Linked DNA regions of Homo sapiens: all the other regions are linked to region 1. The links come from fine-mapping of genetic effects on gene expression. A gene starts in region 1. Each other region holds a variant in brackets. All regions are shown on one strand. Distances are from middle to middle.

Region 1 (8,489 bases):
CTTTTTTTGGGGTTCTGCTCTATAAAGTTTTGGACCTGCTGAAACTCAAAAATATGCCTGAGTTGCTTATTACAACCTAATACAATTTATTGGGTTACAATTTAGTGCAACAGACTAATAAAATTGTGTCTTGTTGTTAAATGTAGCAGCTTACCAACCTCTTTATGACATCAAGGCTCCCGCCCAGTTGGAAAAGAACTGCTAGTAAACACCAATATCAAACTTTTACTTTGGATAACTGGTCACCAGTAACAGAATTTACTTCCCTCATAGAGGCTCTGGTGCCCAGCATTTCAGAGTGCTTTGTAATCAAGTCATACAGTTTTAAGAAATGTAGAACCTGAGAGCTTTCCTTCAATTGTTTATCATCTGTCTTCCCTGCCTGGGCAGTGCTTGGTACAGCATAAATCTGAAGTCACACTTTTTGTAAGTGGTACTGAAAGAATCAGAATACAATATAGCTGTGTTGATTCTGAATCCTGGCACTCAATCAGAACGGCACAGTGTTTCCTGAAGTGGAAGTGATTGGGACCTGACATTATGAAAGTACTTCCCTTTCCATTCCAATCCAAACTCCCTGTTTAAATCAAGAAGAAAGTTGTAGTGTTGTAGAAATGCTTTTAATCTTGATTTTGAACAAATAGCAGGGTTTGGGCTCTTCTGCAGGCACCAACAATTTTGTTTACCATCAACAGAAGGTATCTTATGGCTACGTTATATTTGAAATAGCAAAATAAAGTTTATTTTATGTAAAAGAATGATTGGATTCAAACAAAAATATTAAGTATATGATAGTCTATGTGATAGCGGCAGGAGGCAGACAAATCCCTAGGCAGATAGGGGCAGGGCCCCAGTGAAACCCCACCTGCAAACCAAAGACAGTTTAAAGCCTGAAAGCCAAGCTACAAGTGTTGGGTAAATCCACGGACCGGATTGATAACCCCTCTTCCCACTTGGCACACTTTCCTCTGATCAATCCCCACCCTTCACCTACTTTACATATATCTACCCTTCCCTAATTGGTTTTTTACATTGTCATGCCCACCTTTGAGTGGTGCCTTTGTTTTAGCCTTTTTTGCATACTCACAAACCATGGAGCACACACTCCCTCATTCTGAGCCCATAAAAGCCCCAGACTCAGTCACACCAGCGAACTGCCCACCTTGGGGTCAGGGCAGGGGCCATCCACTTGGGGTCCCGTCTCTGCTGAGAACTGTCTCATCACTGAGTAAAACTCACCTCCGCCCTTTTCCCCTTCGGTTGTCAGCCTAACCTCATTATTCTTGGACGCAGGACAAGAAATTCGGACCAGCTAAACAGCGAGTGCAAATAGAGCTATAACCCTGTAGCACTCCGTTCCGCTAGTGAAGCAATGGGAGAGGGAGCTGCTGGCTGCCACACACCCCCATTCATTGGGCTGCAGATGGTGGGACTAAAAGAGCTGTTAATACATCTCTATTTGCCTGGTGTCTCCAAGTGTTTGGGCACTACTGCATCCCCCTCGTCTGGACACCAGAATCTGCTACCAGAGTCACTTGCCATACACCCAGGCCATCCACAAGCCCTACATGGAGCCTGTGACTGGGCCAGCACTTGGAACAGCCAGCCGGGCCTCCAGGCTTGCTCACTCACTCACAAACCGACTCCTCGCGGGCTGAGCATGCAGTCATAGTGGCCACGGGATCTGGGCGGGGATGAAAGACAAATGCATTCTGCCAGGCTGAGTGGGCAGGGCACCTCCTGCAGCCAGCCCAGGGCTGGAGGTCTCCAGCTGGCAAAGCGGCCCTGAAATAAATCCTGTGTCATGTGTTAAGAGAATAAAGCAAACTGGGGAGAAGGCAGGTGAGTGTGAGTGAAATTTGGCAAACACTGCACTAACATGAAAAATCTAAGAAATCTTCCCACCAAATGCTAGCTCAGGACACTGTTAGCACTTTTATTAAGGACTTTAAAACATGTTGTGGATATAAAAGGGTACTCCATTTAGAGCTACTAGTGTTTCCTCACTCCCCACTATATGAGACCCAGCTGGGGCATTTCTCTTTCACCTCCAGCTGCTCCTTCTCATTGAGCTTAAAGACCATCAGCTGGGCCTGGAGGCCATGCTCCTCAATTGAGTTCCTGTGTGGCCAGTAATAGGCAAACATGGTCCCTTGTCTCAAACCCGGCCATGACTAGGGAGTAAATGTGCACTTGGGCAGGTTAGTTAACTGCTGAGCCTCAGTTTTTTAGTCTGTGAAATGGATATCATGCTTACCCCCTGGAGTTCATTCATTCAATAACTTACTGGGCAGCTATTATGTACCAAAAACTGGGAATGAGGCGTTAACAATATAGTTTCTACCCTAGCAGAGCTAATTTCAGGGCAGAAGAGACAGACCCACACATAAAAATTTTAATAGCCAAGATGAGTTAGACATTCATTACATTTTATAAGTATGAGACAGAAAAATAGGGGTGACCTTTGGAATATACTTAAAAAGTAACATATAAATGAGACCCAGAGGGCCAAAAGGAACCTGCTGTCTAAATGATGGGGTGAAGAGCATTCCCAAGTAGAGGGAACCCAGCCGGCAGAGGTGGGAAAGAGGTCATAAGAAAGGACTTAGGCAAGGCAGGCAGTGGTCCGAAGCGGGTGAGGGGAGAAGACTTGTTAAAGAAATTGGATTTTATGCAATGATCAATGGGACCCCACTGAGGGCTTTAAGAAGGGGAGTCCGATTTACATTTATTTTTTTGAGACAGAGTCTCGCTCTGCCGCTCAGGCTGGAGCGCAATGGCGCAATCTCGGCTCACTCCAACCTCTCTGCCTCCCAGGTTCAAGCAATTCTCCTACCTTAGCCTCCCGAGGAGCTAGGATTACAGGCATCCACCATCACGCTCGGCTAATTTTTCTATTTTTGTAGAGACGGGGTTTCACCATGTTGCCCGGGCTGATCTCAAACTCCTAACCTCAAGTGATTCAGCCGCCTCGGCCTCCCAAAGTGCTAGGATGACAGGCGTGAGTCACCGCGCCCGGCCTTCGATTTGCCTTTTTAATACAGCTGTGTGCTCCAACTCTGCGGAGAATGGGTTGAAGACAAAGGAAGTGAGAGGGCTCTTGCTGAAGGCGTTGGGGACGGAGCAGATTCAGAACGTGAGGAAGTGACGGCAGCAGCTGCTAACCTTACTGCGTGCTCATTTGGGGCCGGCCAGGCACGATTCGAAGCGCCTCACCAAGTGTAAACTCGCTTCACCCTCAGGACAACTCTATACTACGTACCGTGACCGTCCTCCTATACTGGGAAACCGAGCACAGAAAGCTTAAGCGCCTGGCACGTGGTGGGCGCTTTCCTACTCACTTTCTGGGACCACGCACCTGTAAGCTTAGGTCTGGGAATAAAAACCCGAGCAGGGGCCCCTAGCGCCGCGCCCCGGCAGGACACAGGTCTCCGCAGCGCCCGTGCGCGCCCCCTGAGGCGCTGTGATCGGAGGAAACCGAGGCCCCGGGGCCGAGGCGACCCTGCCCCATCTTCCCGGCCGCGCCGCTTCCTCGCGGTCCGCCTCCAGCCCTGCCGGACCCCAGCAGCCCGCGCACCGCGACTCGGCCAGGAGCAGGATCCCGGGCCCGACCGCAGCCCGCGAGAGACCGCACCGAGTCCGCGCCCACTGCCGCCCAACACGTACCTGAGGCGCACAGAACCAACGCTTGCCTCGGATCCCGCCCCTTCGGCGGCCGCCGCGCATGCGCGCAGTTCAAACCCTGGCGGCAGCGGCTTGTGCCTCGAGGCCCGGCCCCTTCCCCTTCCGGAGAGCCCACCGCTGGGTCCTAAAGCCCGCCGGGTGTTTACCCAGGACGGGGCTGGGGAAACCTGGTCTCTCCTAGCTCTTGGCTTACTTCCTGGAGACTTCTTAAAACGAGAGGAGAACCAGAAAGGCGTCCCCTAACTTCGCTCTAGTTAACTAATAGCAAGACTCACCCTCTTTACAGGATTCTCATGGCTCAGGCTCCCAGGGCTCCATGCAGCGGCGTTTGGTTTAAAGTGGAGAGAGGATACGCTTAGGTTAAAGGCAGCTGCAAGGAGACCTGTGTCCTGGGAGGGGCTGGGTGCAGACTTTGAAATCTGCTGCAAAATAAAAAGTTAAATGAGTTCCCATTGGACTCAGAACCTCGAATGTCTGTTCCTTCTTCGCAACAGTTGCGTTCTCGTAAAATCTTCTGAGAAAAGGAACTCGCCCCACGTTCCTTGCCTTTAATAAGGATGTTTGCTGTGGGATTTGGGCTCGGTGCTGTTTATGGTATTTATTCTTGGAATCTCTTTCACACTAGGCATCTCTTCCAGAGGACTGAGTGAAATACATCTGTGTAAATATAACGGCTCGTTTCGTTCTTTCATTGAAGATCTACTTTGTGCCAGGCACAGTGCTAGGTGCTGGGATTATCTTGAGGACATAACAGATGTAGTAGCTGCCCTAGGAGCTCGATCCCAATGACTTGCTGATCTGAACGAGAATCCTGGACTTGGCTCTTTTCGTTTGGTTCTTCTTGTTTGTTCACAGTCTTTTTGTCTCCTATAACGTTTAGCATAGTGTCATAGATCTAAATGATTAAAAGTAACCTATTGCAAGATGGAGGGAGAGAATGAAATAAATCATGAACCAGGCATTGAACCAGCACCTAGAAGCGCTTGGATTTCCAGCCGCGCTCAACGAGTTAAGGGACAGTCAGGGGGTGGAGCCAAGTGCTGGGGGCAGGCCTGGGCGCCTCACTGCCAGGGCGGCTCCAAGGAAACGTAATTAAACAAAGACTCTGGCCAATAGCCCTGCGGGATTAACGCGAGTGGCTGGCAGGTTGTCCAATGGGAGGAGACGTCGGAGTTGCGCGGTGAAGTTCGGCTTCCTGAGCCGCGGTGGGCGTGGCCGCGGTAGGCTGCCAGCCAGGCTGGGAAAGCGGTGGTAGCTGGTTGGGTTGCTGGGGCTCGGTTGTTGTAGTCGCGATGTTCTTCTCCGAGGCCAGAGCCAGGTCGCGGACGTGGGAAGCCAGTCCCTCGGAACACAGGAAGTGGGTGGAAGTAGGTTTCCGGAGGGCGACTGAGCCTCGGACTTCAGCTTGGCCTGGGCCTCTCGCTTCCTCTCCCGTGTCTGGGTCTCACTCTGCCGGGTGTGCAGATAAGACCTGGGCTGCCTGTCCAAAGGGTCGTGGTTAATGACTGATCCTGGAGCTGCAGGGCTCCTGGCTCCCCGTCCAGGACTACGGCTACCTCCAAGTTCCATCTCCTTTCTCTCTATATAGTCTATTAATGGTAACCTTGAGTCTGCATCTCTCCCGCCTTTCAAAGCCAGCCCCTTTGCCTCACCTTCCTAACTCCAGGACTGAATTTTGGGTAGAATTTATCTCAGTGGCCTAAATGAATTAATTTGCGTCACCTAGCGGTTAACTCGTTTGCACTTTGAGGGAAATTTCAGCCCATGTTTAAGAAAATTTCAGTCCATCTTTAAGATTTCTTGAGAATTAATATTGGGATAATGAAATTCTATTTTCATACTCTACCGCTGGGCCAAGTTTTAGATTTTCGAGGTCCAAACTGTATAATAAACTAGTAATAAAAATAAACCATTTCTGTCTCATTAACTAAAGCTATTTAATGTTCTTCAGGTATTTAAAGCATGTGATGAAGATCACAAAGGATATCTCAGCAGAGAGGACTTTAAAACTGCTGTTGTAATGCTGTTTGGGTACAAGCCCTCCAAGGTAGAGCTTTCTTATATATTTGGGGATGGGGTAGACGATCAAAGGTGAATGGATCCTAAGAAAAGTTCACAGGGCTAGCTTAGGATGTTTATAAATTGCTTTATAAGCAATTTCAGAGATGTGTCCAGTGCTGAATTTTAGCTTCCTCTTAACACCTCAGCCCAGAGATGAAGTAGAAATCTTTTCCACTGGAGTCTACACAAGCCTATCTCACCACCAGGCTGCTAATAACTACTATAAATACAAGATGCTAGAGAGGTGCCAAGAGGGAAGACTGAGAGGGGAGTGTTGGTAACAGGAGAAATTTACATAGGACATGACATAGTCTCTTTCTCGTTTTACTTTTGTTGCTTTGTTTATAAAATACATCCACGGTCAAAAAATTAAAACAGTGCAGAAAGGTATAAAGTTGAGCATAAAATCCGCTCGCCGCCTACCAGAGGGTCCCACTCCTAGGGGATTACCATTAACAGTTTTTTTGTGTAATTCTGAAATTTTCTATCCATGACATACATATGCATAGTCTTTTATTGAAAACATAAATGGGTAAATATTGTGCCTACTTTAACTTGCTTTTCTCATTTAACAATATATCAACCTAAAAGCACACACCACTACTGCATTTTAAAATATGGTTGCATATTCTTTTTAGCCAGGTTCCTGTCTGGGGTTATATAGGTGGGGTTTTTTTTTTTTTTCTGCCAACATTGCTGCAATGATACACACATTTATGTCCTTGTGGCTGTATATCTGTGGAATAAGTTCCTAGAAGTATAACTGCTAGGTCATGGAATATGTACGTTTAAAATTTTGTTAGATATTTGCTCTCCAGAAAAGATTGCACCAATTCACCAATAATGAGAGTTGAGCTGAGCCTCCATGAACCTCCTGCTTGAGTAGGGCAAGTTTCCTGCTCACCCCTGTCTTTATGCTTTTCTGCTTTCCTGTTACATTCATTCGAGAGACAACACCCTTCTTGTTAAGCTGGAATTAGTCAGAGTCAAGATATTGTCCAGATTCAAGAAATTGAGCTGCCACCATCAAGCAAAGGAAGCACTCAGAGCTCAGCCTGGAATGCCATCCCTCACTCTCATTAGACCAGACAGCTTGGCAGTTAATTAGGGCCCAGCTGTTCTCCTCATGAGTGGACTGTGCCTTTCTGTCAGATTGAAAGCCCAGCAAAGCCAGGGACCCTGTGATGTCATGCCTCTCCGCCCTATTTGTGTCAACAGAACATACTTACTGTGAAGTTGTGATGCACAATAAGTATTAATATATTCTCTTGACCCAAGTAGGTTGCATGAACAGCTCAGGTGGGTTCAGAGTGGCTCAGCTATGAGGGGCTGCCTAGTTACTGAGAAGCTTATTATGGAGCTCAGAGAAGTAGTCAGGGCTGACTCTTAGAAATGGCAGCTCTCCTGTTTACCTGTAATCATTTCAGTTGGAATTACAAAGCAGGTCAGCTGAAAAGAGTCAGCCTGTGAAGCATTGTATTTAACTTGGATTCACCTGGAAAGGTATCTTGTCTCATTTTTGCCTTTATCACCCTTGAGTCTATTTGGTTTCAATTTTAGAATGAGGAATTTAATGACAGATACAGTGATGTAACATACTGTACATACACTCCATGAAATTTAACAGATTTTACTTTTCATATTGAGGTGAGGTTTTCTATTTTATTTTTTAAGCAAATGAACTATTTAGTAACCGCAGGTCACTAAACGGTATTTACTAATAGCATGTCACCTATAAACTTAGTCATTTGTACAATGAACTTTTATTATGCAGGTGACACTTAATTTCTGTGAAATTCAACAGATTTTTTTAGACTAGGTTGAGGTTTGGGGTTTAATTTTTTAATATTGCTTTTGAGCAAATGAAATATTCACTGACTGCAGGTCATGAAGCAATAAAATACTTATATAATAAATCACTTATACATTCATGCAGTTTTTTACATAATTAAGTTTATTTATTTGTTGAGATGCAGTCTTGCTCTGTCACCCAGGCTAGAGTGTAGTGGCGTGATCTAGGCTCACTGCAACCTCCACTTTCCAGGTTCAAGCAATTCTCCTGCCTCATCCTCTTGAGTAGCTGGGACTACAGGTGCACACGACCATACCCGGTTCTTTTTTTTCTTTTTTTTTTTTTGTGTTTTTAGTAGAGATGGGGTTTCACCAATGTTGGCCAGTCTGGTCTCCAACTCCTGACCTCAAGTGATCCGCCCACCTCAGCCTCCCAAAGTGCTGGGATTACAGGCATAAGCTACTGTGCCCACCCATACACAATGAAATTTATTGTTTCTATTTAATAAAAGGAGTACTTGCTAGTTGCTAGTGATATAAAGATGAATGAAACACAGTCTCTACTTCGAAGCAGTTCAGAGTTTAATATAGAAAGACATAAAACTGTGATAGATACCAAGAAAGAGAAGAGATTGAAAAACAAAGTGAAGGGAGCAAAGAAGGAAGGCCTAATTCTAGTGGTAACTATAACAGTCTGGGTGGTCATTTAGACTAGAGAAGATAGACTACTCTGATAAGTATCTAGGAACACTTTGTGGGTGGTGGGACAAGTTAGGCCCTGATGACTGATTGGATGTGGTGGTGGTAAGAGTGACATGACCACTGGGACTGAAGGGATAGCAATGCCACCAATTAAGAGAAAATTTAAGAGTAGGTTCAGAGGAAGTCAGTGAGTTTCGATTGGAACACATTGAGTTTGAGGCAGCTATGAGCATTCCAGGTGCATTCACTCG
Region 2 (8,489 bases), 65 kb after region 1:
CTTTTGTTGGATTTCTTCCTACATATTTTATCGTTTTTGTTGCTATTGTAAATAGTAGCTTTTGAAAATTATGTTTTTTAAATTACTTGTAGAAACAATAGAAATGAAATTGCTTTTTGTATGTTAATCTTCTAGCTAACAACCTTGTTAACTTTGTAGATTTTTAAGGATCCACAAAGATAATGACATCAGTGGAAAATAGTAATTATTTCTTCCGTTCCAATCCTTATATCATTTATTTCTTTTTGCTGACATATGCACTGGCTAGGACTTACAGGGGTGATAGTGTCTTGTTCTGAAACTCAAAGGGAAAGATTTCAATATTTTATCACTTAATTTGATCATAGCCGTAGGGGTTAGATCCTTTCTCAGATTAAAGAATTTCTTATCTGGTCTAGTTTATCATGAGTTTTTTAAAAATCAAGAATTGATGAGAACACATGGACACAGGGAGGGGAACATCACATACTGGGGGCCTGTCGGGGGCGGAGGTGGGGGGGACAACTGGAGGCAGAGCATTAGGACAAATACCTAATGCATGTGGGGCTTAAAACCTAGATGACAGGTTGATAGGTGCAGCAAACCACCATGGCACTTGTATACCTATGTAACAAACCTGCACGTTCCGCACATGTATCCCAGAACTTAAATTAAAAAAAAAAAAATCAAGGCTGGGTGCGGTGGCTCACGCCTGTAATCCCAGCACTTTGGGAGGCTGAGGCGGGTGGATCACGAGGTCAGGAGATCGAGACCGTTCTGGCTAACACGGTGAAACCCCATCTCTACTAAAAATACGAAAAATAAGCCGGGGGCGTGATGGCGGGCACAGGAGAATGGCGTGAACCCGGGAGGCGGAGCTTGCAGTGAGCCGAGATCGCGCCACTGCACTCCAGCCTGGGCGACAGAGAGAGACTCCGTCTCAAAAAAAGAAAAAAAAAATCAAGAATTGGCATTAAATTTCACTATATGCTTTTTCTGTATCTATTGAGATGTTATTTTTTGAAATTCATTAATATGATGAATAACATGTCTGTGTATATGTATGTATAGTTTTAATATCAATTCATCTTTTATATTTTTGATATAAACCCAAGTTTACTATCCTATTATCTTTTTTTTTGTTTGTTTGTTTTTTTTTTTTGGAGACGAGTGTGCAGATGTTTATTAGGGGATATTCTTGAAATGGATACCTGTTTGGGGAAGAAAAGGAAGCAGGATTGGGCAGGGGGATAACTTGGCTATGATGTCACAACAGTGTCCTCAATGAAGCCCACAGAGACTGATAAAGTTGGGTTTGACTTTCAGAGTTGTCCAGAGCTGGGGCAAGAGGGAAAGGCCTTTAAGGCCCCCCAGGAGATGGACTTTGGATACGGGCTGCCCTGAAGGGAGGGCCTTTCCCAGAGAGTGGGGCAAGCTGAAGTCCATCATCCAGCGGCACTTCAGCAGCTGGGGAGAGGGTTGATGGGTTCCCCAGCCAGAAAGGGGGATCTTGGTGGCTCATCACAGTGGCCACTGTGTGCCCAACATAGTTGCTGCACATTCGTGTTCATCCCAGCCTCCAACATCCATTTTTCAGCCCCTGGGCCTAGGGTGGGGGCAAACCCAGCAACCCTGGGTTTGACATCACATATTAATCCCATTCCCAGAATCATTTTAGCCTGAGGACATAAGGAGCCTCCAAGCCAAGCTCCCCTTGGAATTTCCCGCACCTGCCTTTGCTCATGCAGCAGCTTCCTGACGCTGGCTTCTCAGTGTCTGAGCCCAGGAATGCTGCCAGAGTGGGCACATCACAGCCAAGAAAAAGGGAGTGGGAATGAGAGCTTTTGTCATTCAGTTCACAGCGCGGCAGGCTCTGGGTGAGCACATCCTGTCCACTATCTCATTCGTGGTCACCACCTCCCTGCAAGGTGGGATCTTTTATGAGCCCCATCGATAGATAAGGACACTGAGGCTCAAGGACAGGAAGTTGCACATCTGGGCTCTCAGGCCTTTCTTTTCTTTTCTTTTCTTTTTTTTTGAAACAGAGTCTCACTCTGTTGCCCAGGCTGGAGTGCAGTGGCACAGTCTTGGCTCACTGCAATCTCTGCCTCCTGGGTTCAAGCGATTCTCCTGCCTTAGCCTCCGGAGTAACTGGGATTACAGGCATGCACCACCACGCCTGGCTAATTTTTGTATTTTTAGTAGAGACGGGGTTTCACCATGTTGGCCAGGCTGGTCTCGAACTCCTGACCTCAGGTGATCCGCTGTCCTTGGCCTCCGAAAATGCTAGGATTACAGGCGTGAGCCACCATGCCTGGCCATCAGACCTTTCTTTTCTGTAGAAACCCTTGACTCTAAAATCCAGGAAGCATGACTGTGTCAGGATACTGTTTATATGAACCCTTCTGTCATTTGTCCTCCAGAGAGATACTAACATTCCCCATCCCACCAGGTGGGCTAAGGCTGGGACTGCTTTAACCCTTTCTCTCCTAGAGTCAACACTGGCATGGGCCTGGGTGCTGCTTCCTGCTGGGGGACCTGGGGATTTGGGTCTTGTGGATGAGCCGGACACCCCCCAAGCCCTCTTCTAGCTTGATGTCCCCCTGCTGCAGGGCCTGCTGGATAGCATCAGTGAGGGCGTCAAAGGCCAGGTCCACATTGCAGTTGTTTTTAACAGAGGTCTCCACGAAGGCCATGCCCAGGGAGGCAGCTAGCTCCTCGGCCTCCTGGGCTGAGACACAGCGGGTGCTCTGCAGGTCACTCTTGTGGCCAACCAGCAGGAAGATGACCTTGTCCGGGCCCTGAGTGGCCATGACCTCCTGGTGCCAGTCTTGGATGTGTTCAAAGGACTTCCTGTTTGTCACATCAAAGACCAGCAGGACACCCACCACATTCCGGTAAAAGGACCCGGTGATGCAGCTGAAGCGCTCGTGGCCCGCGGTGTCCCAGAGCTGCAGCTTGACCCGCGGCCCAGCCCGCAGCTGCAGCGCGCGGCGGTAGCACTCGGCGCCCACCGTGGGCTCGGGCTTGGGCTGTGGGGCGCCAGGCGCGCCCGCCACGTAGCTCCGCAGCAGCGACGTCTTGCCCACCGCCGCGTCCCCCAGCAGCGCGACCCGAAATTGGTAGCGGCAGCCCTCGGCCTCCATGGCCGCGTCCCTATCCTATTATCTTTTTAATGCACAGTAGGATTCAGTTTGCTAATATTTTACTTAGGGTGGTGTGTGCGTGTGCGCGTGCGTGTGTGTGTGTGTGTTTGTGTCTAAAATGGAGCTGTAATTTTCCTTTCTTGTTTTGTTTCATTTCAAGCTTATACTGGCCTCATACAGTGAATTAGGGAGAATTCCCTCTTTTTATATTTGGTACAGATTTTGCTATTTTAATATAAATAAAATATTGCCTTGGAAATTTTATAACTTTAATTATAAACATAATCAGAAACCTCTTGCTTCTGACAATACATTGTTTTCTGCTACTTTGAAAAACTCTGATTTCTACCATAATATCTCAAACTCTTAAGTAATTTTAATGAATTAAAAGTACAAAGGTATTAAAAGGTTATAAACATTTATTAAAATCCTCTGTTACATCTTATAGTTTTCTATTCCCTGAAGTCACTTCAAGTTATTTATTTTTAAACATAGAACCTCTAGTTGAAGTCTATTTATGTCTGCTTCTGCTGGTTCTTGCTCATGGTGACTAGTTTCCCTGTAAACTTGTTTGTATTCAACTTTCTGGAGCTCACCGACCTTGAAAAATAATTTATGAGGAATTCCACAAGTCCAGGATGAAATCAGAGTGGTTTATGTGTTTTTGCCAGGCTCCTTGTAGCACAGTCAGTACAGGACTATATTAAAACAAATCCACAGATGGAAGTTTCTGTATTCACTCAAGGTATGTTTAGACCTAGGATCCCAGGGACTCTCCCAGTGAGGGTCAGTCAACACTCATAACTTCTCAGGGGTGAATGATCGTTTTTTATTTCATTTTTCTCTTACTCCTTTGCTCAGCACCAGGGAAACTTTCATGTAGTCCTTTGGATTTCAGCTTAATGTGGGAAAGTTATCCTGTGAGATGATCCAAATTGGCAAAGTCCTGGATCTTCACTTCTGGCCTCGTCTCCCCATGAGGCTACCAGACCGCAGCCCCAGTGCACGATGTGAGTGAATGCCTTCAGGGCAAAGGTGGCTTTGGGATGCCAACTTTCTTTCCACTAACCTCTTTGGGTTCAAGCTAGCCTCAAGAATTTGGCCTGGCAGCTCTTTTTAATTTTTCAGTCCTTTTAAGGTGGTTTTGTTTTAGTGTCTTATCCAGCATCTTTAGTTTTTTGCAGTGGGGAGTTGATCTGAGTATCCAAAAACAGAAACTCATGTGAATTCTTAAATACTTTGTCTCCCAAACTTTTCCTTCTAAATTCTGCTTTCCAAATATTGATTTATTAGGTAGACAATAAGAATTATTAAGTGTTAGAAAAGAGTATCACTTATTTGTAAGAGATATAGAAAATATATAAAATCAGTAATGCATTTCTAAAGCTTAGTAATTCTGGCATTTTAGCTTTACTTTATCTTCTATTGCTGTTTAAAGAATATGACCAAGTATTTCTGACCTTTTATTGCTCTTATATTGAATATCATTTAGAAGTTGTAAGCTAAATATTTATTTTC[G/A]TATAACCTAAAACCATAGTATTAGGAAATACTGATGTAATTTAGTGATCATGTCATTGAAGCTTAACATTTTTATTGCATTCATTATTTATGAGAAGAAATCATGCAGTGTTTCTGTTTTTATCAAGGTATTATATCTAAAAATCACTTTTCTTGAACTTGAACTCAATATTTATAAAAGTGCATTTTATAGTACTTATACCTACGACAAAATAATTGATTAACTGTGTCCAAGTGTGTTGATGGGTCCCCAAGGGCCAACGCTAGATTTGATGATTCACTAGAAGGACTTCCAAGACTCAGCCTACAGTCGTATTCATGGCTATGATTTATTACAGTGAAAGGATTCAATGCAAAACCAGCACACGGGAAGGGTACATGGGGTGAAGTCCAGGGGAAACCAGATGCCAGTTTCCCATTGTTCCCCTCCAGTGGAGTCACAGAGAACACAATTCCCCAATAGTAAGCTGTGACCAAACATGTGAAATGTGCCAACCAGGGAAGCTCAGTAGAGACTCAGTGCCCAGGGTTTAATTGTGGGCTGATCACACTGGCATTCTCTGTCTGGCATGTGCCAAAATTTCAGACTCGCAGAAGGAAAGCAAGTATTCAGTGGGAGCCATGTTGTCTGCACAAACAGTTTTAAGCACAGTGATCAACTCTTACCAGTTAATGGTGGTAGGAACCTTCCTGAAATCCAAGTTCCCAGATGCCAGTCAAGGGCCAGGCTTGTAAGCAGAATTGCAGTCAGGTCTGCTGTCTTAACTTTTTTCTACATGTGGAGGTGTGGCTGAAGTTTTTTAAGCACTTACCATTTGGCAAGCACTGTTCTAAGCCCTTTACTCGTTTCATCCTCACAATCACCATTTCATAGATGGGGAACTGAGGGATAGAGAAGTTAAAAAATTTGTCTCATATTTCACAGCTAATAAGTAGTAAAACAGGATTCATAGTAAGGCTTCGAATCCATGATTTTATCCAATACTTTATTTGGGTTTTTTTGAAAATTACTTTCATTTTGTCTCACCTCATGAATAAGATGTTCCATACATTTCCTTAAAATGGTGATTAAAATAAATTGTCAAAAAAAGGAAGAAATTGTCTTCATACAGCCCCTTTTAATCTTCAGTGTTGTTTCATGGCTCTTAATTTTCAGATTTGAAAAATCATTCTAATTATCATGCAAACCCTTCCTGATCTCATAGGCTTTTCTCTGCCTCTGTGTTTCTTCTGGGTTGGAGAATTTGAATTGTTTTTTCCATTTGTCTGGTCCTTGACCACTAATTTACTGCCATGGTTCTTTCTGTATTTCCCTTTTGGTATTTTCTGAAATTTAGCAATTAGAACTGCAAACAGAGACAGTATCACAGCGCCATGGTTTTATAAACAAAGACAGGACAGCTGTCTTAGTCCATTTGGGCTGCTATAATAAAAATACCATAAACTGGGTGGCTTATAAACAACAGAAATTTTTTTCTGACACTTCTGTAGGCCGGGAAGTCCAAGAGCAAGGAGCTGGCAAATCTGGAGTCTGGGGAGGGCCCACTTTCTGGTTCACAGATGGTACCTTCTAAATGTGTCCTTGATATAGTTTGGACATTTGTTCCCACCCAAATCTCATGTTGAACTGTAATCCCCAATGCTGGAGGTGGGGCCTGGTGGGAGGTGTCTGGATCATGGGGACAGATCCCTCAAGGCTTGGTGCTGTCTTCATGTTAGTGAGTTCTTGTGAGATTTGGCCATTTAAAAGTGTGTAGCACTTCCCCTGCTCCAACTCTTGTTCCTGCTCTGGCCATGTGACATGCCTGCTCCTGCTTTACCTTCTGCCATGATTGTAGGCTTCCCCAGAAGCCAAGCAGATGCCAACGCCATGCTTCCTGTAAAGCCTGCAGAACCATAAGCCATCTAAACCTTGTCTTTATAAATTATCTAAGCTCAGATATTTCTTTATAGCAATGCAAGAACAGCCTACTACAGTCTTCATATGGTGAAAGGAGAGAACTCTAGTCTCTTCAGCCCCTTATAAGGGCACCAATCCCATTCATGGGGGTTCAGCCTTTATGACCTAATTACCTTCCAAAGGCCCCACCTCCAGCCATCACATTGGTGATTAGGTTTTAACATATGCATTTGGGGCAGGCACAAATATTCAGACCATAGCAACAGCATTTTCTGTTTTATTTCCTTCTTTGTAATTCTCATCATTGTATTGGCCGTATTATCTACCTCAGTATGTTGAACAGTGACTTAAGGGCATGGCCTTTAAATGCTGCTAGAGGGCCATCTGGGATATAGCTGATAACTAAGAGCTTGCCTCTCTACAAGTATACTTTAGATTATTTTTTTAGAATTGAAATGAGAAGATTCACTATTTGCTATATCCATTTCCAAGAAAATATATTATAGCTTCAAGAAAAATGCGAGTGTTAACACGTGCTGAAATATGATACAGATGTTTAATGTCTTACTGTAATATTATTTTACTGTTCATAGTCACCTGCTTTTTTGATCCCTGCCTAAGTTTGCTTTCTTTATTCCATAACACCTGTTCCCAGGAATATATTTACAGTCTGTTGTCTTTTCTAAATGGTTGGTACATATGTAAGAAAAAGGTTGACTTTTACTGGTTTCTTTCAGTAAATACCTTAAGGATTCCTTGTTATTTATTTTCAGTGTTACTTTATTTCAATTTAATACCTTAGTACTGTTTTTACTTAAATACCACATAAGGAGTCATGCTATATGACCTAGGCATGACACTTACTTAAATGTTTATGGATAGAAAACAAATTATTTCTAGTTTTACTTTTTAAAAAGAATTCCAAAACTTCAAACTACACATGATAAATGGCCCTGTGTTTCCATAGGCTTAGAAAGCTTATGTCTAATTTATTACTCCTATGTGATCATGTGTATCTAGTTGTTTGCTACCTTCTATTTCAGATCTTTGCATTTGTAGTTCCCTGTTTAAATATCACATCATCAGAGAGGCCTTTCCTATCCAAAGTGACTTCACTCCATCTCCCATCCCCAGTAAATCTCTGCTGCCTGGTTTTATGTCATTCATAGCAGTTAGCAAATCTCAGGGAAGATTTTTGTTTTTGTTTCCTTATTGTCTATCTGTCAGGCTTGACTATAAAGCTTCATGAGAGCAGTGATGTTGTCTGTTCTTGAATACCTCTGGATGTTCAGGTTAGTTCAGAGCACTTGTTGAATAAATTAATGAATTTATTAAAGACTATAAAAACAATCTGTTTATATTAGTATGGTATTTGATCTTTGTTAATTCAAATCTATAAGATTTTCTGTGGATTATTTAGGATGTGAAGAAGGTATCCAGACTGACCTTAGGTTTAGGTTATAATAATTAGCTAACTAAAAAGTTAACAATGGATATATTTAATCTCTAAGCCTGATTAAATTTTCTGACTCTTTGGGCTGTCTCTGAGAATTGTGTATCTGCTGTAAATTACCAAAACTGCAATAAATCAGGAGTCTTTCCAAATATCGAGATACTAAATACATACTTTGATCTCTTTGTGTCCATTAGAAATATTTTAAACATAGAAAAGTATGGAGAATAATATGGTGTAACACTTGCATTTCAGCCACTTCCCTTTATCTTGTCTTAATATTTGTCATATTTGCCTCAGTGTTTGATCAAAAACCAGTCTTGATATTTTTAAGATATACTTAAATCAGTAGATCTTGAGTAAAGCAGATCACTTTCCTTTTTTTTTTTTTTTTTTTTTTTTTTTGAGACGGAGTTTCGCTCTGTTGCTCAGGCTGGAGTGCAGTGGCGCGATCTCAGCTCACTGCAAGCTCCGCCCCCAGGGTTCATGCCAT
Region 3 (8,489 bases), 45 kb before region 1:
CTGGGTCACTTGGGGGCATGCTATTTAAGCTCTCTATGCTTTAGTTTTCATATCTCTAAAATGGGGATAGTAGCAGTACCTAGCTCCCAATTTGGGTGATTAAATGAGCTAGTATAAAAAAGCGCTTGGCCAGCATATAGTAAGCACCATACAAGTATTTGCTATATTACTTGTGAGAGGCTTTCTTTGGAGGCCAGTCCCTGGTGGGAAATTCCAGGTAGCACCTCCTCATCTCAAGCCAGATGTGCACTTAGTGACTAGCAATGCCAGTGTACAAAGGGTCTAGAGGCACTAAGTCAGGGGTCTCAAGCTTTTTTCCATCAGTGATGATGCTCACAAGACTTTCTCATATGAGTACAGAAAGGGGTATGCTCTGTCTTCACTCTGCTTGTACCAGATGTAGGCAGGTGAGGGTAGTAATATGACCTTGAGTCATCTCTATCGTATAAAGGAAGTCACTTGTAGGCGTTAGTACTGATAACCATCATTTGTAACAAAGCACATGAAGCATACCAGCTAATCCCAATATCTTAGAGCCACAGGGCCAGGCAAGCAAGTCTACCCAATGACATCTGTAAGTATTTTCTTGTGTAATCCAATTTTATTTTCACCAAAATACTCAGACAAAGGAGAACAAAAAGAGATGATTTGTTTCAGAATCAAAGCAACAGACATTAGAGAAGGAGTACTGCATAGTAATATTGAAAAGCAGAGGAGAGAGAATGTCTTTTATGTTTCCTCAAAAAGCCAGTGATTTTGCAGTCAAGCACTTGTCTCGTTTTCTCCCGAAGTGGCAGCACCAACATTTCTGCTCATCCCTGACTATCCGCATTGCCTGTCAGTTGCTAGGCAACTCTAACAGTGATCCAGCATGTGTTAGGTACCCACCTTGCTTCTGACCACCCACAATACACAACTTTCGTAACTGTTCTCATTGGGTTTGCCAATTACACCTAGGCACTATCCTCTTAGCCAAGGCTTCTCTTAAACCTCATCTTCCTCCTGCTTAGTCCTGTGGTAAAATTTAAATACCACATTTGTCATCATGTCCCAATAATTTCCCTAACAACCGGCTGCCCATCAAACATGGGATGATTTTACGGTAGGATCAAAACAGATGGGAGGGAAATCTTATTAAAACCATAAATATCTCTCCATAAAAGTAACCAATCAAAAGAGGAAATCGCCAGCTAATATAACATCCTAATAAGTTCAAGTGAACTGTTAATTTTGAGTTTCTCTGAATGTATAAATCTGGCTGACGGTACTTGTCCTGATTAAATAGAGTAATTGTGACCAATTTAAAAATTAACCACATATGGCTGGGCGCAGTGGCTCACGCCTGTAATCCCAGCACTTTGGGAGGCCAAGGCGGGCGGATCACAAGGTCAGGAGTTCGAGACCAGCCTGGCCAATACCGTGAAACCTCATCTCTACTAAAAATACAAAAATTAGCTGGGCATGGTGGCATGCGCCTGTAGTCCCAGCTACTCGGGAGGCTGAGGCAGAAGAATCGCTTGAACCCGGGAGGCGGAGGTTGCAGTGAGCCGAAATCATGCCACTGCACTCCAGCCTGGGTGAATGGCGAGACTCCATCTCAAAAAAAATAAATAAATAAAATAAAAATAACCACATATTTAGTTTAGAAAAGGCTATATATCTATGAAAAGATCTTCTTTTTTTGAGACAGGGTCTCACTCTGTTGCCTAGGCTGGAGTACAGTGGTGCCATCATGACTCACTGCAGCCTCAATCTCCCAGGCTCAAGTTATCTTCCCACCTCAGCCTCCTGAGTAGCTGGGACTGCAGGCGCACACCACCAAGCATCCCCCGCCTTTTTTTTTTTTTTTGTAGAGATGGGGTTTTACCATGTTGCTCAGGCTGATCTTGAATTCCTGAGCGCAAGTGATCCGATCGCCTTGGCCTCCCAAAGTGCTGGGATTACATGTGTGAGCCACTGCACCTAGCTTGAATACGTCTTAAGGTCATATATTTTATATGGATGTGTTACACAGGCAAAACAGATAAAGGCTTTATAAGGTGCTTTCTTAAATCCTAAGAGGCCTAATGAATATGAGAGACATGAAAAATCAAGCAGTGAACTAATATTAAACACAGCATACTGTTTAATAGGAAACAACCGCATGTTTTCTATCATCATCCTTGGGATTCCATAAATGAGATAAAAGCCAAGGGTATAAATGCGTTTTCCAAAATTTAAGTGGCAAGGCTAGTAAGTGGCAATCTCAAATTAGGACTTGGATCTTTGGACTCTATCTCAGGTTATTTCCTCCATAATATGCTGGATGATTGGGTAATGTCACCATCTGTGGACCCTGGGTTTGAAAATGTTGATGGGTTACAGCTATTAAACCCAAGCAACTAGTAGTAGTGGTTTCTGGATGAGGAGCAGGGTGGCTGGGGAACAGGAATGGGAAGACATACCTTCTTTATATACCATTTATTTTATTGTGTATGTTACCTATTGGAAAAAAATAAGTTTTTAAAAGGGTACTGATTCAAATAATTTTTGGTCAGTAACCATGTGCCATGCAGTGTTAGATGCTAAGCAGAAAAAGATGAGTAAGATCAGGCACCTTGCTCACCTGAAGCTCATGACACAGGGAAGCAAAGAGACCCATAAAGAAGCAACCAGGTCGATGCCTACAGAAGCAGTGAGAAGATATTCAAAAAATTAAAAAATAAATAAAATAAACTGGGAAGATGAAAAAAGGACCAAGCAAAAGGCGCCATGAAAACACAAAGGAAAAAATAATTATGCCTGCTGAGCTAGAAAAAGTTTCACTTTAAGGGGAGCATTTGAATTAGAAGTTGAAAGAAAAGTATAGTTATTGTAGACAGTACAGAAAAAAATAAAACCTGAGAAGCAGTCTGAAAATAAACTGCATTTAGATTAAGGGGGATACCATTCATTCAGTTCTGAGCCACTACAGGCCAGGTACTGAACTAGGCACTATATTAGCCAATCTGCCAGAAGGCACAAACATTAAAGAATAATTACCAAAGATCACAATGAGTATTCTGGTAGGAAATGAAGCATGATAATTATAAACTCATTTTTTCTCTACAGTAAAAGGAAACTTCTAATGCAGATAGTTCAACAGAAACTTCATTAAAAAAGGTTTTGGTGCAGATTTTATGATTCTTGGTGACGTGGTAACTATGGCAACCATATACTAAAACGTGACCCAGGATCTATGAAAAATGTTTTCAGTCAGAACCTCAATCACAACACATAATGAAAGAGAGGAAATGAAAACTATGATTTATATTTAAAATAATAAAAGGGAAGATTAAAAACTATATTAAGGCTAGCATTTTTATAAGATTCCAATTCCTGACCTTCTGTAGCCAGTTTTCACATTTGTGAAATGTCAACTGGATGAAACAAAGTCCAAATGATCAGGAAGTCAACATCCTCTACTTATGATGGGTAGAGACATAACAGGCAATAAGATATTACGTAGACCCAATAGGAACCATACGAAATACATTTCCTAAGGGGATGAGATTTTTTAAGATTAGGAAATCAGATCTTTTGTGATTCTATGAATCTTTTATAGGACTATTATTTTTAACAACTCTACATACCCAAGTAAATATGGTTCTCCAAAGCAGTCATGCTGCGGGGTTGGTCCCTTACTCCAGTACAGCTGCCTCTTTTGGCTCCAAGAAAGTACAGAACTTCTCAAAGAGCTTTGGAGCCAGAGGTTCAGTCTTTTGAGTGTGTACAAGGGTACTTTTGCTTAACTACAAAAAACAAACCCCAATTTTGGAAACAGTAAAAAATTAATTCCAGCCAAAATTGGAGAATAAGATGGGTAAATCGAACCAGGAAAGAAATATCAGTGGGCCAGGTGCAGTAGTTCATGCCTATAATCCCAGCACTTTGGGGGGCCGAGGTGGGCGGATCATCTGAGGTCGGGAGTTCAAGACCAGCCTGACCAACATGGAGAAACTCCATCTCTACTAAAAATACAAAATTAGCCGTGGTCTGGTGGCGCATGCCTGTAATCCCAGCTACTCAGGAGGCTGAGGCAGGAGAATTGCTTGAACCCAGGAGGCAGAGGTTGCAGTGAGCCGAGATCGTGACATTGCACTTCAGCCTGGGCAATAAGAGCGGAACTCCATCAGTGAAGTCTGTGGAAAGCAGAATCGAAAGATGGCCCCTGGTGCACATGCCTGTATATCCCCTTTCCTTGAGGATAAGCCAGAATTGTGAATATGATAGAGTTTCACTTGCATAATTTGGTTATCAATTAATTAAGTTACTCAAAAGGGAAACAATCCTGGGTGGGCCTGAGTTGGGTCCTTCCTGAGATAGATCCTCCTGCTGGTCTCCAAGAAGCATCCCATGAGGAATGCAGCAGACCACCACGGGCAGCACCTAGGAGCCGAGAACGCCGGGCTGACAGCCAACAAGAAAGCAGGAACGTCAGGCTTACAGCCACAAGCAACCGTGAGCTTGAAAGAGGACTCCCAAGCTTCAGATGAGAGCACAGCTGGGTTGACGCCTTGATTTTAGCCTGGTGAGACACTGAGCAGAGGGCTCAGCTAATCCACGCCCAGACTCCTGACCCACGGGAACCATGAGATAGTAAATTTGTATTGTTTTAAGCCCCCTTATAGTTTGTGATCATATATTACATAGCAACAGAAAACTAATGCAAGGCTGGAAACAAAGAATGTCTATTAAGAAACAATACTTATTTGTTAATGTGTCATGTCAACTTATTTTGAAAGAACTTGGAAGAGTGGAAAGAAAACTTGAGCAATGGCAATGTTTTTGGCCAAAGCACCTACTTTCAAAGGGTGATCATAATACTTTTTTGGATATGCAGCTCTAGATTATTTTTTAAAGTCTATCATGTTAAAAGTCAAAATTCATATTGCCTATAATTCTCTGTGCTTATTACTCCTATAATTTTTTTCTGGGGAATTTGTTTTAATTTTATTGTACTTAATAAAGAGGAGTGGGTTATTCATTCCAAACCCAAACATTAATACGGATCAGTAATAATAAAGTAGAAAAATATCAAAAGTTAAATTTACGTAGCTTTTGATGTATTTACCTTTGGCTAAAATCCAATTCTTAAAACTAGTATGTCTGCTACTTTGCTGACAGAGCATTAGATTTGCTGGGCATGAGCACTTCATTTGGACTAGAATCCACAGTGCTCTCTACAATCCTGCCTCACTATTCTAAAGCAAGTAAATATATTAAATGAAAGGATATATCAGTTGTTCATAACGAA[T/C]TTATTCTCAAGGATGATGATATTGTCCACCAGAGCATAAAATCTAGGGAATATTTAGAAATGTATAAGGCATTTTTTTCAGCTTTCACTAGGACTTGGCAGTTAATATGTGATGGCCAGGTTATTAAATAACTTATAATGCATGGGACAATCTTGTATAACAAAAAATTATCTTGACCAAAATAACAATAGTGCCCTGTTGAGAGACACACTATTTGAGTATAAGCTGAAGTCGACTATTTAAAACCACATCTTATTCTAGAAAATCTCATGGAACAAGCATTTAGAAAAGCACTCAATTATTCCAATCAATTCAAATTATAACATTCATTGAACTGCTTTCCATAGACCAACGACTAATAAGGCCTCAGGCAACCCCGGAGACATCAAAGAAACGGTAATATCTGAAAGCAGGTAAAAAGGCAAAGTCTGGCCACCCACTACTGCTCTGAACTCACCTACCCTCCCATCCTATTGACTCCAGTAACACTCACTTTGCTGTTAATCAAACACAGTAAGCATATTCCCACTCCCCACCCCGCGTCCCTCAGCAACCCATCCACATGGCTCTTCCCCTACTTCTTTCAGGTCTCTGCATGAATGTCACCACGTCAGAAGGCCTTCCCTGACCTTCTTCCTTAAGGAGCAGCCTCCCTCCCCAACCCGAGCACTCACACCCTACAGGACAGTGTTTGAGGGTGGGGACTCTGGATTCTTGGGCACATTGTTTAACCTCTGTGCTTCAGTTCTTCCATCTGAAAAGGGGATTAATGGATACACTGTAGAACGGCTATAAGAATTACATGAATTAATATATACATATATATACATATACATATACATACATACATACATACATATATATATATATATATATATATATATATATATATATATATATATATATAATGTGCTTGGAACTGTGCCTGGAACTGCTGGTTAAGAACTACATGTTAGCTCTGAAAATTTAAAAACAATAACCTAAACCAAATTTGAAATAAAGCTTTTAACTCATTTCATTTGATAGCAAAACTTGATCTTAACTCATTGGGCAACAAAAGTTGAACTAAGATGACATGGGGCTACCTGTGATCTTTGCTTCCAAAATGTTGTATTATGAAGTGTTGGTCCAGATACCACTAGGGATATTAACAGACAGTATAGGTACCATATTATCTTTCTAAAATCCAAATACTGAACTACATCTGGTACCAAGAATTTAGAATAAAGGATTGTGCACCTAAATTATCATTCTATTTTTTCTCTATAGCACTTACCACCATTTGCATACATAAACACACTTCTTTGCTTTTTGTGTAATTCCCAGCACCAGAACATAAAAGTCAAGATGTTTTATTGTTTATTGCATTCTTAGCACCTAGAAAAGTGTGTGGTGCATAGTAGGTGCTCAGTAGTTATGTGCTGGATAAATGGTTAAATCTGATACCCAAAATAGAATATATATATAAAACATTTTTCTTAGGTAGAAGAAAAATTATGTAATGGAGAATGTGTGACCAGTTGCTCTTCAACCCAGGAGGGATGGCTTGAATCCAATTCATTTGTTTGGCAATGGAACACCTGGTAGGCATGAAAAGCCCACCTGATATGTATTTCTTGTATGTTCCTCAATGCCCAGGCGTTGATCCGCTATATTCTCCTCTGGAAGTCGCAAAGGATTACGGTGTTAACAATCAGTACTAACCAAAACTCCAAAACATACTATATGTACACCAAACTTTTAAGTTCATCTCCAACAAACAATTCCACCTGAAGTCTCCACCATGATAAATCAATCTTCAATCAAATTCACCATCATCCCACTGTGGTAGGCCAGTTCCATTCCCTGACTTCTATACTGATATCAGTGACAATCCCCATCTACATACCCCAAACTCAGGAATCACCTTTGAGGGCCCTCCCATGTTCCATTATGCAGTCTAGGCAGTGCTTTCATGGTTACCACTTCAATCCTAGGCTTCATCAGCCTCCACATGTCAGGCACCTGGCCAGTCACCAGGGTATGCTGAACAAGACAGGCATGGACTTGGCCTCACAGAGTCTAGAGGGGAAGCCAGATAATTACACAAGCAACCACAGTGAATAGGGAAAGAACGCTGACAATGCAGGAATCTAGGGCATTATGGAAGCCACCAGGCTCCAGAAGTGATGTTTTGGCTAAAAACCCACCTATGTAGAATAGTCAAAAAGCATTACAAGTGCAATTAACTAATATGTATACAATGAATTCTTTGGTAAATCTCTTTCATGCCAATGTAAATTCTGTGAGAACCTCATCTTAATTACTCTATTCTTGCCACAGCGGGCAATACATATTTGCTGAGTAATGGGTAGAACTGCCTCAACTCTGCCGCCTTATTCCTCATTGAGTGGAGGGAGGGGATAACGCCACCTCACAGCTCTTGTGGGGACTGAAAGACACTACTATGTAGGTAAAGCACCAGAAGTGTCTGCCACATGGTGGCTACTTAATGCAGGTCAATTCTCTCCCCTGCCCCTTTCTTCTTACTCCCACAGGTCACCATAGTTGGCACCTTAAACCTTCATAGTTGCTGTGCAGTTGAGAAGTCTGAGGCTCAGAGAGGTTAAGAAACTTGTCCAAGGCAAGACTTGTTCAATAGTAGACATGACCATCTCATCTAGTACTGTCTGACAATGTTAAAGCTCATGCTTGAGAGACAAAATAGTGAGGTAGGAGCTGTGAGCTCCACTGGTGGCACACGGATCTAAGGATCTGGACAGGGAGGGACCAGCAGAGGCTGAAAGAGGCTCCAGGCGGAGATGGGACCTGAACACAACTCTTAAAAGATGAACAGCAACTGAAGAAAGAGAGAAAAGGGATGAAAGGATCAGGAGAAGAAACTACATGGGCTGTTGGCTGGATGACTTCAGGGGCAAAGGAGGCTAGCCTGGCTTCTTCTCAAGGCTCCTCTTGGGGATTAATGGGTAAGAATGGTGAAAATGGTGTGGCTGGGGCATGACTTCCAAACTGAGGAATCTGTACTTTAGCCTACAGGACGTGGGGAATTCTGAACATGGAACAATGAGGAAACTCTATGTTTCAGAAAGGTGAAGGGGCATGGGCAACCAGGATGAGTGGCTTATGAAGAACATCCACGTGATGACACAACAGATAGGAAACCCTTTCAGAAGTCCAGAGGATAAGTTTCTGACCTGGTAATTGCAAGGACTG

Which allele goes with the higher level. Positions count from the first base shown, and alleles are read on the strand shown. Sizes are in standard deviations (SD) of each study's normalised expression.
In carriers of allele G in region 2, the expression in cerebellum of the gene that starts at base 3,710 in region 1 tends to be lower than with A alone (small effect, 0.33 SD a copy in GTEx).
In carriers of allele T in region 3, the expression in sun-exposed skin of the gene that starts at base 3,710 in region 1 tends to be higher than with C alone (small effect, 0.37 SD a copy in GTEx).

The links. PIP is the estimated chance that this variant, and not a neighbour inherited with it, causes the effect. A credible set is the group of variants that fine-mapping cannot tell apart.
Region 2: its variant is the best candidate, but not a certain one, in a credible set for the expression of TDP1 in cerebellum (GTEx, PIP 0.62).
Region 3: its variant is the best candidate, but not a certain one, in a credible set for the expression of TDP1 in sun-exposed skin (GTEx, PIP 0.77).

The regions. Positions count from the first base shown.
Region 1 is chr14:89,951,148-89,959,636 of GRCh38, reverse strand. TDP1 (tyrosyl-DNA phosphodiesterase 1) reads right to left here and starts at 3,710. Exons shown (of 17, transcript NM_018319.4): 1 at 3,667-3,710; 2 at 2,837-3,059. EFCAB11 (EF-hand calcium binding domain 11) reads left to right here and starts at 4,907. Exons shown (of 6, transcript NM_145231.4): 1 at 4,907-5,051; 2 at 5,636-5,731. The coding sequence starts at 4,977. RefSeq lists enhancers at 1,144-1,652, 4,678-5,178 and a silencer at 3,383-3,612.
Region 2 is chr14:89,886,430-89,894,918 of GRCh38, reverse strand. The region is part of intron 5 of EFCAB11 (EF-hand calcium binding domain 11); the gene reads left to right. It also overlaps the pseudogene RAB42P1. Among named protein-coding and RNA genes, the nearest start is that of EFCAB11, 64 kb to the left of the region's middle. RefSeq lists an enhancer at 1,557-2,112. The variant G/A (reference allele first, on the strand shown) is at 4,644.
Region 3 is chr14:89,996,067-90,004,555 of GRCh38, reverse strand. The region is part of intron 14 of TDP1 (tyrosyl-DNA phosphodiesterase 1); the gene reads right to left. Among named protein-coding and RNA genes, the nearest start is that of TDP1, 44 kb to the right of the region's middle. The variant T/C (reference allele first, on the strand shown) is at 5,276.